Linked DNA regions of Homo sapiens. The protein of the gene in region 1 purifies or fractionates together with the protein of each later gene. This does not show direct contact. Each region holds a gene or a part of one and is shown on either strand. Other genes may lie near its edges.

Region 1 (5,068 bases):
AATGCAGCTGGGCGTCCACTCACAGCCAGATGCTCACGAGAACCCCGCTGCTTAAGGGCAGGCAGGAGGGTGTTCTGATGGGATGGGGGCACGGACCCCCAGGGTGGGCGAAAACAGCTCCCACTATCTCTGTGGAGCACACGACAAGCTCGCTTGGCCTCCTGGCGCCATACGTGGCCCATGGCTCTCAAAGCGTCAACTGTCAGAGCCCCTGGAGTGTGTGCGAGGCCTGGGTGACATCCGGGGATGGGGCCAGGCCCTCCTGCCCAGCAGGGTGCTGATGGGGAATCAGGGCAAGAGCCTAGAGTGCTCGGCAGCGACGGGTGCCAGGCACGCAGAGGCCACGTGAGGGAGCACCCAGTCCAGGCTCCGGGCAGCTGTAAGCCGGGATGACTGGGGCAGGGCAGGGGCTGGCAGGAGAGGCTGCAGGAGAACGTGGGGGCATCGGTGAGACTCAGCCACCTGTGATGGAGAAGGACGGGCAATAACAGGAGAGCCTGGAGGCTGGGTGGTCACTGGTGTGCAGAGGGAGTTGTCTTGACTTTGTAGGACACAGTTTTAAATCAAATACATGGGCTTCGAGTGGCTGGGGCCATGCCATGGAGGCTGAAAATGCCCTGAAAAGTTGTATTTAACTTGCAAGAGCAGGGTAGGGGACCGGCGCTGTAGATGTGTTTGTGGATGAGCATGTCAGTGTGAGTGGGGATGCTGGAGAACCGGGACATTCCAGGCAGGCTGTGAAGATGGGCTTAGCCCCGAGGCCTGGCCAGGATGGAAGGGGCTAGAATGCCTTGGCGGGGACTTGTCGCTCACTTGGGTGTCGCCTTGTGGGGCAGGGGCAAGGGTTGACAGGAGAGAGGAAGGGAAAGGGATACTGGGGTTTTAGTCTTGGTGGCCCCGGTGCGCCGCCTGTGTGGCTGTCAGAGCTGACTGGCAGTGCCACAGGCACGTGTGTGCCGGGATGAACCCAAGCATCCCTGAGTGCGCCTGCCGGGGAGCTGGGACCACAGGTGAGCCTCAGCTTTGTGAGCCCCCTCCTGCCCTTGGTGGTAGCGGAGCTGATGTCTCTGGATGCAGGGGAACCTGGGGGCTTGTCAAGGAGAGAGGGAGCCAGGCTGGGGTGGAGGGAGCGCAGCTGGGCTTGTGCTGGGGGGCTGGGAACATGGAGGGTAGCAGGCAAGGCAGCTGCAGGAGCAACCTTCCCGCAGGTGGAGCTGAGAGAGGTGATCTGCGGGGCAAGCATCTGCGTGTTGGAGTTGCTAGAGCAGAGTTGACTGAGGAGGGGAGGCGCGGAGGGCAGAGGGTAAGGAGGGAGGTGGGGGTTGGTGCTGCAGCACCTCAGGGAGTCGGGATGGGGATGATTCTTCAGTCAAAGCCATTCCTGAGGAAGGTCAAGTGAGAAGATAGGTCTGGTCTGGGGAGGGTGGTGGGACGGGTGGTCCTCTCAGGATGACAATGTGGGCACCACAGGGGAGGGCGTGGACGGAGACTGTGGTGCCGAGCATGGGCTGGGTGGATGTGTTTGGGCAGAAGGGGGAGACGGTGGGGGGCCAGCAGGGCGCCAGGTGCCCAGGAGGAGGCTGGGCCGGGGAGAGGCACAGGGGCCGGCGGGGGCCCTTGCCACTCCGTCCTGAGCAACCCGTTTTGTGGCCAGGTGGTGCTGGCCATGCCCTACGACACCCCAGTGCCCGGCTACAAGAACAACACCGTCAACACCATGCGGCTGTGGTCCGCCAAGGCTCCCAACGACTTCAAGCTGCAGGACTGTACGTTCCGTGGTTCTTGGCACCCTTGTGTCCATGTGGGTGGCTGGTCCCAGACACCCTCGCCCACAGCCTTTACCGCGCCCTGTGGCTCACTGTCCTGGAGGCCGCGCGGCCCTCCTCTAGGGTGTCCCTGCGTCCCAGTGAAGAGCGAGGCTGGTGCAGCTTACCTGTGTGTGGGGCCTGCCCGGGAAGGGCCTACAGGCAGAGCGACCAAGACACCTGGGCCCTGGGCACCCAGGGTCACCTTGTGCAGATCATGTGCCCCTGGGGAGGAGTGAGGGGGATGGAGTTGTGTGCGGTACATAGGGGAGCTGCAGGAGGGATCACGTTTACCTCCAGGGATGGGGGTGAGGGGAAGTAATGCAGCGGCTGGGGGAGTCCTGTGCTCGAGCGAGTTTCCTTGGCCTTTGCAAGTAGGCCCCTGAGCGGTTGCAGTGCTGGTGCCAGGAGGCATGTGTGTGTTGACCCCGCTCCATTTCTTCTTAGTCAACGTGGGAGACTACATCGAGGCGGTCCTGGACCGGAACTTGGCTGAGAACATCTCCAGGGTCCTGTATCCAAATGATAACGTGAGTAGCTGGCCTGGGCACTCTTGCTCAGGCCGTATCGCTTTCTGGCATAGAGAGGTGGGCTGGCTGGCCGGGCTCCCCAGTGGGGCCTGCTGTTGGCCTTGGCAAGCAGCCACCTGGTGGCCCTCTCGCCTTAGGTGCACACACGATGCCCTTGGGGAGGAGAGGGTGCACTGTCCTCCATAAAGCCCAAGCGGCTCTTCGTGTGCCTCTTGGCAGCTCTGTGGTCCTCTCTCCGAGGACACTCTCTGCCACCTTCCCCTCTTATCCACTCCCCTCATAAACACACAGCCGCTCCTTGGGGCCAGCTGGAGCCCGTCAGCCCTCCAGTCTGTGTGCTGTTCTAGCCTGCAGTGCCACTTCCCCAAGCAGGTGATCTGTCTGTCCAGGGGACCGTAGCGCCTACTTGGCATTGATGCCTGGGGACATTTGAAAGGTCCTTGGCACATGCCCTTCCCATACTAGGTGATGGTGTCGCAGCCATGTTCCCCACTGCCACCTGCATTTAGTGCCCAGTGGCTTTCTTTTTGTTGTTGTTGCCTGACAAGTCCTTAGAAGATGCCCTAGTGGGCAGAGCATGTTTAAAAGTGAGCTTTTTGTTTTATGAAAGTAACCTGTGCACACAGGAGCAAAGGCCTGGGTGCCGGAAGGCTCATCAAAGAGTGCACTCCCCTGTCCCCATGAGACTGTTGGCAGACCCCAAGCCCCAGGTACAGAATGTTCCAGAAGGCCTGTGCTTGGACAGTGCAGCTCCTGAGCAGCGCTGGCACTGTACTTCTGACGGATGGACACTGTGTCCCGGGGTGTGTCCCACAGGCGGGGTTACCTTCCTCAGTGACCTGAGGGCACACAGGCAGGCCCCAGTGTCAGGCAGCTGGGCTGGGCTCCTCTCGGCCTTCTGCCTGCACCTTTGAGCCAGGTCGCTGACCTGGGCTTCCTGGGGGAGGAGAATGGCCCAGCCTGCACCCTCCAGCTTGCTCTGCTGTGTGCAGTTCTTTGAGGGGAAGGAGCTGCGGCTGAAGCAGGAGTACTTCGTGGTGGCCGCCACGCTCCAGGACATCATCCGCCGCTTCAAGTCGTCCAAGTTCGGCTGCCGGGACCCTGTGAGAACCTGTTTCGAGACGTTCCCAGACAAGGTGCATGGTGGCCCTGGGAGGGATCTCAGTGCCAGGGGCTGGGCGCCTTCAGGCTCTTGAGGTTGCTTTCTCATGTCCCAAAAGGGGCTAGAGTGGAATGGTACATGCCCCTTGTCTTGGGGTCTCGTCATTCTGGGCCAGGATCCCACCTGGGCCCTCCCTTCCAGAACAAGGGCCACCGGCCTTGTTAGGAGTCAGGTCAGCAAGGGACATGGTGAAAGGCTCCTGTGCAAAGTCAGATGTGCTGGGCAGGCTAAATGGGGTTATTCCAAACAAAGCCCTATAGTTCCAGTGAGAGAGCCCCCAGCCCCGGTGGCCACGGCTCCTCCCCTCCGGCTGCAGCACATACCCGCAGCAGAGCACACAGCTGTAGGGCACTCACCAGCAGGCACATCGGGCACAGCGCACACCTGCCACAGTGCGAGCCCGACTGTCCTCCCTGCTCCCTCCACAGAACCCCTCCCTGTTCTCCAGGCTTCTCGGGGGTGGGGTGGGCTGGGCTGGCTCCTTCACTTGGGGAGCTTCGTATGCCAACAACCGTGGGTGCCCACGTGGGATGAAATGACTGAATGGCACCCCTTGTGCGACCTTCAGGTGGCCATCCAGCTGAACGACACCCACCCCGCCCTCTCCATCCCTGAGCTCATGCGGATCCTGGTGGACGTGGAGAAGGTGGACTGGGACAAGGTGAGCATGGAGGAAAAGGGCGGCACCTCCCCAGAGCCTGGAGCCCGTGCAGACCAGGGCTACAAGGAGCTGAGCTGGGGGGCCTCTTCCCTGGCCTTGGGAGAGCTGTGTGGTCATCATGCCCAGGAGAGACGCGAGCTGTGGGAGGGGTCTGGTTCCAGGAGACGGAGGTTCCGGGGGCCAGAGTATGGGGTCAGGGCGCGGGGGAGATGATAAGGATAGGGCTGTGACACTTCTCAGGGTTTCCCGTTGGTGCATTCTCATCTTGAAATTTGGTGACAGCTCCCCAAAGCGTTAAGTGTTTAGAGGTCTGTGCTCTATTCATGCACCTGCCCTCGCGATTCAGTGTATTTTGGACTTAAATATGTTTGTGTGGTAGGATTTTCTTAATCTAACCGTTACCAAATCAACATGTGGAACCATAAAACAGGCCAATGTGGTGACTCACACCCGTAATCCTAGTGCTTCGGGAAGCCAAGGCAGGAGGGTTGCTTGAGGCCGGAAGTTAGAGACCAGCCTGGGCAATACAGCAAGACCCCACCTCTAAAAAAAAAGCCAGGTGTGGCAGCACACACCCAGAAAAATAAAACCAAAAGAAACCATAAAACGATTTTTTTTAACTCCGTTTTGTAGAAACCCAAGCCCCTCTCTGGTCTTGGGGTGTGTGCACTCCAGGTGAGGCTGTACCTGTTGTGGGTACCCCAGTTCTGGCCAGCATAGGGCAGGTCTGTGTAGTAACCAGTGTCCTCCCCACCATGTCTGGCCACTTTAGTGGAAATAAATAGAAAACTGCTCAATGGTCTGTCCGTTTACCAGTGACGGCAGAGTGTGAAGGTGACTCCAGGTAGCAGGCGATTGTGTCTTATTTGTGTGTGTGTCACGCACTGGACCATAATGTCACACTTCAGTG
Region 2 (3,372 bases), on another chromosome or scaffold:
TCATAGAACTTTCTAATCTAAAATAATTGGCCTTCTACTCATTAACTTTTTTCCCTTAAAACTTCAGTCTGTCTCTGTTTTGCCTGTGAATCTAAATGACTGTATATAGGCCAAATGTGATCGGGTGCTCAGGGGTTGATCTCCAGTTTGCTTGGGGATGCAAGGTTCTGTGCTGGTCCATAGTGATGCTCAGTAAGTAGCTGATGATTAAATGGGGTCTGAAAGAAATGGGGTGACCTGCTAAAATCTCAAGCTTAGGGAAGAGCCACATGTTGAACAGCATATATCCAACACTTCAGAGTCAATTTAGTCTTAATCATTTTATGACTATGATTGTTTTAATTGCCTAATTCTTATAAGTCAATCATATTCTCCTCCTGGCTCAAACAAAGTTCAGTTGCCCAGTTGAGAGAGTGCATTAATAGATCCAAGACTAATTTTCCTCTGTAGGCATATAATTATTGGCTTCAAAAAAATGCTACTAACCATGATACTTTTAAAAAGCCAAGTCAGAATATTTTAAATTCTCATGATTATGGCTTCCTCAGGTATTTTCAGAGTACCATGGTGCCATCTAATGAATTGCATGATGAAGAGAGTGCCAACCAAGGCTAAACTTCTATAGAGGGTTCCTCAAATTATGTTCCATGGAGTAAATGCCAGGCTTTTTGAAAAACCAGATATGTAGCAGGGTAGAAGGCTAGTGTTTTATAAATAAGGGTAAGCTGAGTTTAGGTGACTTGATTAATCTTTCATTCCTTTATTCCACAAACATAATTTGGTGCCACTGTGTGGCTGGCCCTGTTCTGGGTACTGGGGTTACCAGCATGAGTAAAGAAACCTCCAGAAGCCACTATCTAGGAAATGAGACATCTAAACCTCCAGTTGTAACATGATGTGATTATATTGAGATATTTACCATTTACTGAGTAACATTTACATGTCTTCTCTGTATTTTTCGTAACTATTTTGCAGAGTTGGTATTATTTTTCTTCTGACATGAGGAAACTGAGGCTCAGAAGGTTAAGTAACTTGCTCAAGGATACACAACTACTGTTGGAATCAGGCTTTGAATTAGAATCTGTCTAGTAGTATTTTCCATACTAGGCTGCCTTCCATAGCTGCTCTAACAGAGAGGTGCACCTGTGATTTCTGGAGTGAAAAGAAAATTCCAACAACTCACCTATCTGCTTAACACCAAATTATTTTTGCTTCCTTGGTAGTGGAGTAGGTAAAAGGGTACTGTTGCTCCTGACAGTTCTGTGCTGTGTGTTCTCTTCCACCAGAAAATGCAAAATGATTCAATGGTCTTTCAGAATTCTTGGATCATGATTGGGCAATGGGCTGTTGCCCAAGTGTCAGGGTGAAATTGGGATGGAAACTGGGTATGAAGTATGGAATGAAGTATGTCTAAGACCTTGACATGAAGGAAGGGGCTGGCAAGGAGCATGAGATAAGGGAGGGTGGTGAGAAGCTCAGTGAAGATGGGATGGGGGGATGGGGACTCTGAGGAACAGTGGGCACTGGACTGGCTGTCAGTTTCAGTATCGTGTCCAAGATGGTTTGCTGCCAGGAGTCGAGGAAGCCCGCCATAGCATTTTTCCTGGTCTGACATTGTTGTGGCCACATTTGTAGCATTGGCAGCAATGTTGAGTTCTCATCCCCATTTCCACTTCCTTTCTACCACAGCCGGGGCCCTAAAAATAGCCCTTTATCCTTACCCATAGAGGATAAAAGGAGGATAACAAATGAACAGGAAAGTGTTTAGGAATGTTTGGGAGGTGAGAAAAACAAAGTTTCATACATTTTAATATTTACACTGGGCAATTTGAATTTTCTGGTCAACTTATGAAATGATGAGCCACTATTACTATTAGTAGTAGTAACAATAGTAATAGTACTAATACTATTATACTAATAATAATGCAATTAGTTTTATGATAATAGCAGTAGTAATAGTAATTTTTTGAGAAGTTTATTTTGGTTCCTTCATGTCTAAAAATTTCCACATCTGGGGACAGAATAGTTTAACCTCTTGGTAGTGCTTGAATAAGTTATATGCATCATCAATTTTCCTTAAATATTTTGTTGCTGTCGGTTTGGGATATTTTCTTTTCAGGAAGGCAAGACTCAATGAAGCAAACAATTATTGTCTTCCAACCTGAAAGAAAAAAAAGTGACTTTCCTCAGAGTGAAATGTAGTTAAATAAATAAGTTCTCAGGAAGATACTTTAGCTAGAAAATCCAGTTTGTAGCATATGGAAACTTGAACAGTTTTTGTTATCATTAAACTGAACACACCGCTAACTTTATTTTAATAATTCATGCATTGTTTCATAAACAAAAGCAAACAAGCATTCATCTGAGAGATCACTTTTAGTAGAAGAAATAATAATTTATAATTTTATTTATTATTTCTTCAGTGGAGAATAGTCTCTTGGCTGAAAACACGTTGCTTTTTTATTTATGAAATGGCACATGCATTATTAAAATAAACCTGTGACTGTGTTCTGCTTAATGATATGCAAAATTATTTGAGGTTGGATACAGAGTGGTTTCATTTCTCTACCTGTTGTATGGTTGGCTGGCTTTCTCACCAACTGTGGATTTATGAGAGCATTTAAGGAGCATATATTTAATTCTGGGACCAAAAAGCCCCAGCCGATTGGAAAAATAAAAACAGAATTTCTAGTAATGGTTTCACCTTTGAGCAGTCCTTGGGTGAGGAGGATGGGGAGGGAAAGCATTTAGCAAGGAAAGGAATGGGTCTTTCCATATTGGACACAGCAGAGACCCAGAGACAAAGGCTTTGCTCCCCCTTCCCCGCCTCCATGCTAATCTCAGGCAATTCTTTGGAGCTCTGCTTTTGGCTCCAGCTCACCTCATGTTCCTCAATGGCTCTCTGAGTCCCTGCAAGTATTTCAGGCCAAATCCAACAATTCAGGTTCTGCTCCTTTCCTGTCTCACCTGCTCTGCTCTGAGCAGCAGGACGAGGGAAAATGACCTCAAATATACTTGAAGTTGGGTTTTCTTTGTTATCCAATAAACCATCTCATGAGTTTTTTTGAGTGTTAAGATCCCAGAAAATGTGTGTTCAACTCTTTGGATAGTTATTATAAAAATACTGGAGGAACTTTATTTTATTTTTATAGCTCATAAACTCCTGGGATGGCAGGCATTTCAGCGGGAGTACAATGTGAAGGGTTGATCGCCCAGACTGAGTTATTTACCCAAGTGTTACAGGGAATGTAGATTCAGTGGACCAGTGAATCTTGTCCCACTTGATTGTACACATTGTGACAATGACAGTGTCTGGATGGAAAGATGAAATACTTGCATGTCATTCTATGGCACAATAGCATATGGGTTATG

The links. The genes of interacting proteins can lie anywhere in the genome.
Region 2: the proteins of PYGB (region 1) and OLFM4 purify together in Homo sapiens (co-immunoprecipitation; one large-scale study listed by IntAct). This does not show direct contact.

Annotation. Positions count from the first base shown.
Region 1 is NC_000020.11:25,274,992-25,280,059, forward strand, and holds part of PYGB (glycogen phosphorylase, brain form), read left to right. Parts: intron 1-1,654; coding exon 1,655-1,766; intron 1,767-2,252; coding exon 2,253-2,335; intron 2,336-3,327; coding exon 3,328-3,471; intron 3,472-4,065; coding exon 4,066-4,158; intron 4,159-5,068. UniProt on the Homo sapiens protein: Glycogen phosphorylase that regulates glycogen mobilization. Phosphorylase is an important allosteric enzyme in carbohydrate metabolism. Enzymes from different sources differ in their regulatory mechanisms and in their natural substrates.
Region 2 is NC_000013.11:53,045,813-53,049,184, forward strand, and holds part of OLFM4 (olfactomedin-4 precursor), read left to right. Parts: intron 1-3,372. UniProt on the Homo sapiens protein: May promote proliferation of pancreatic cancer cells by favoring the transition from the S to G2/M phase. In myeloid leukemic cell lines, inhibits cell growth and induces cell differentiation and apoptosis.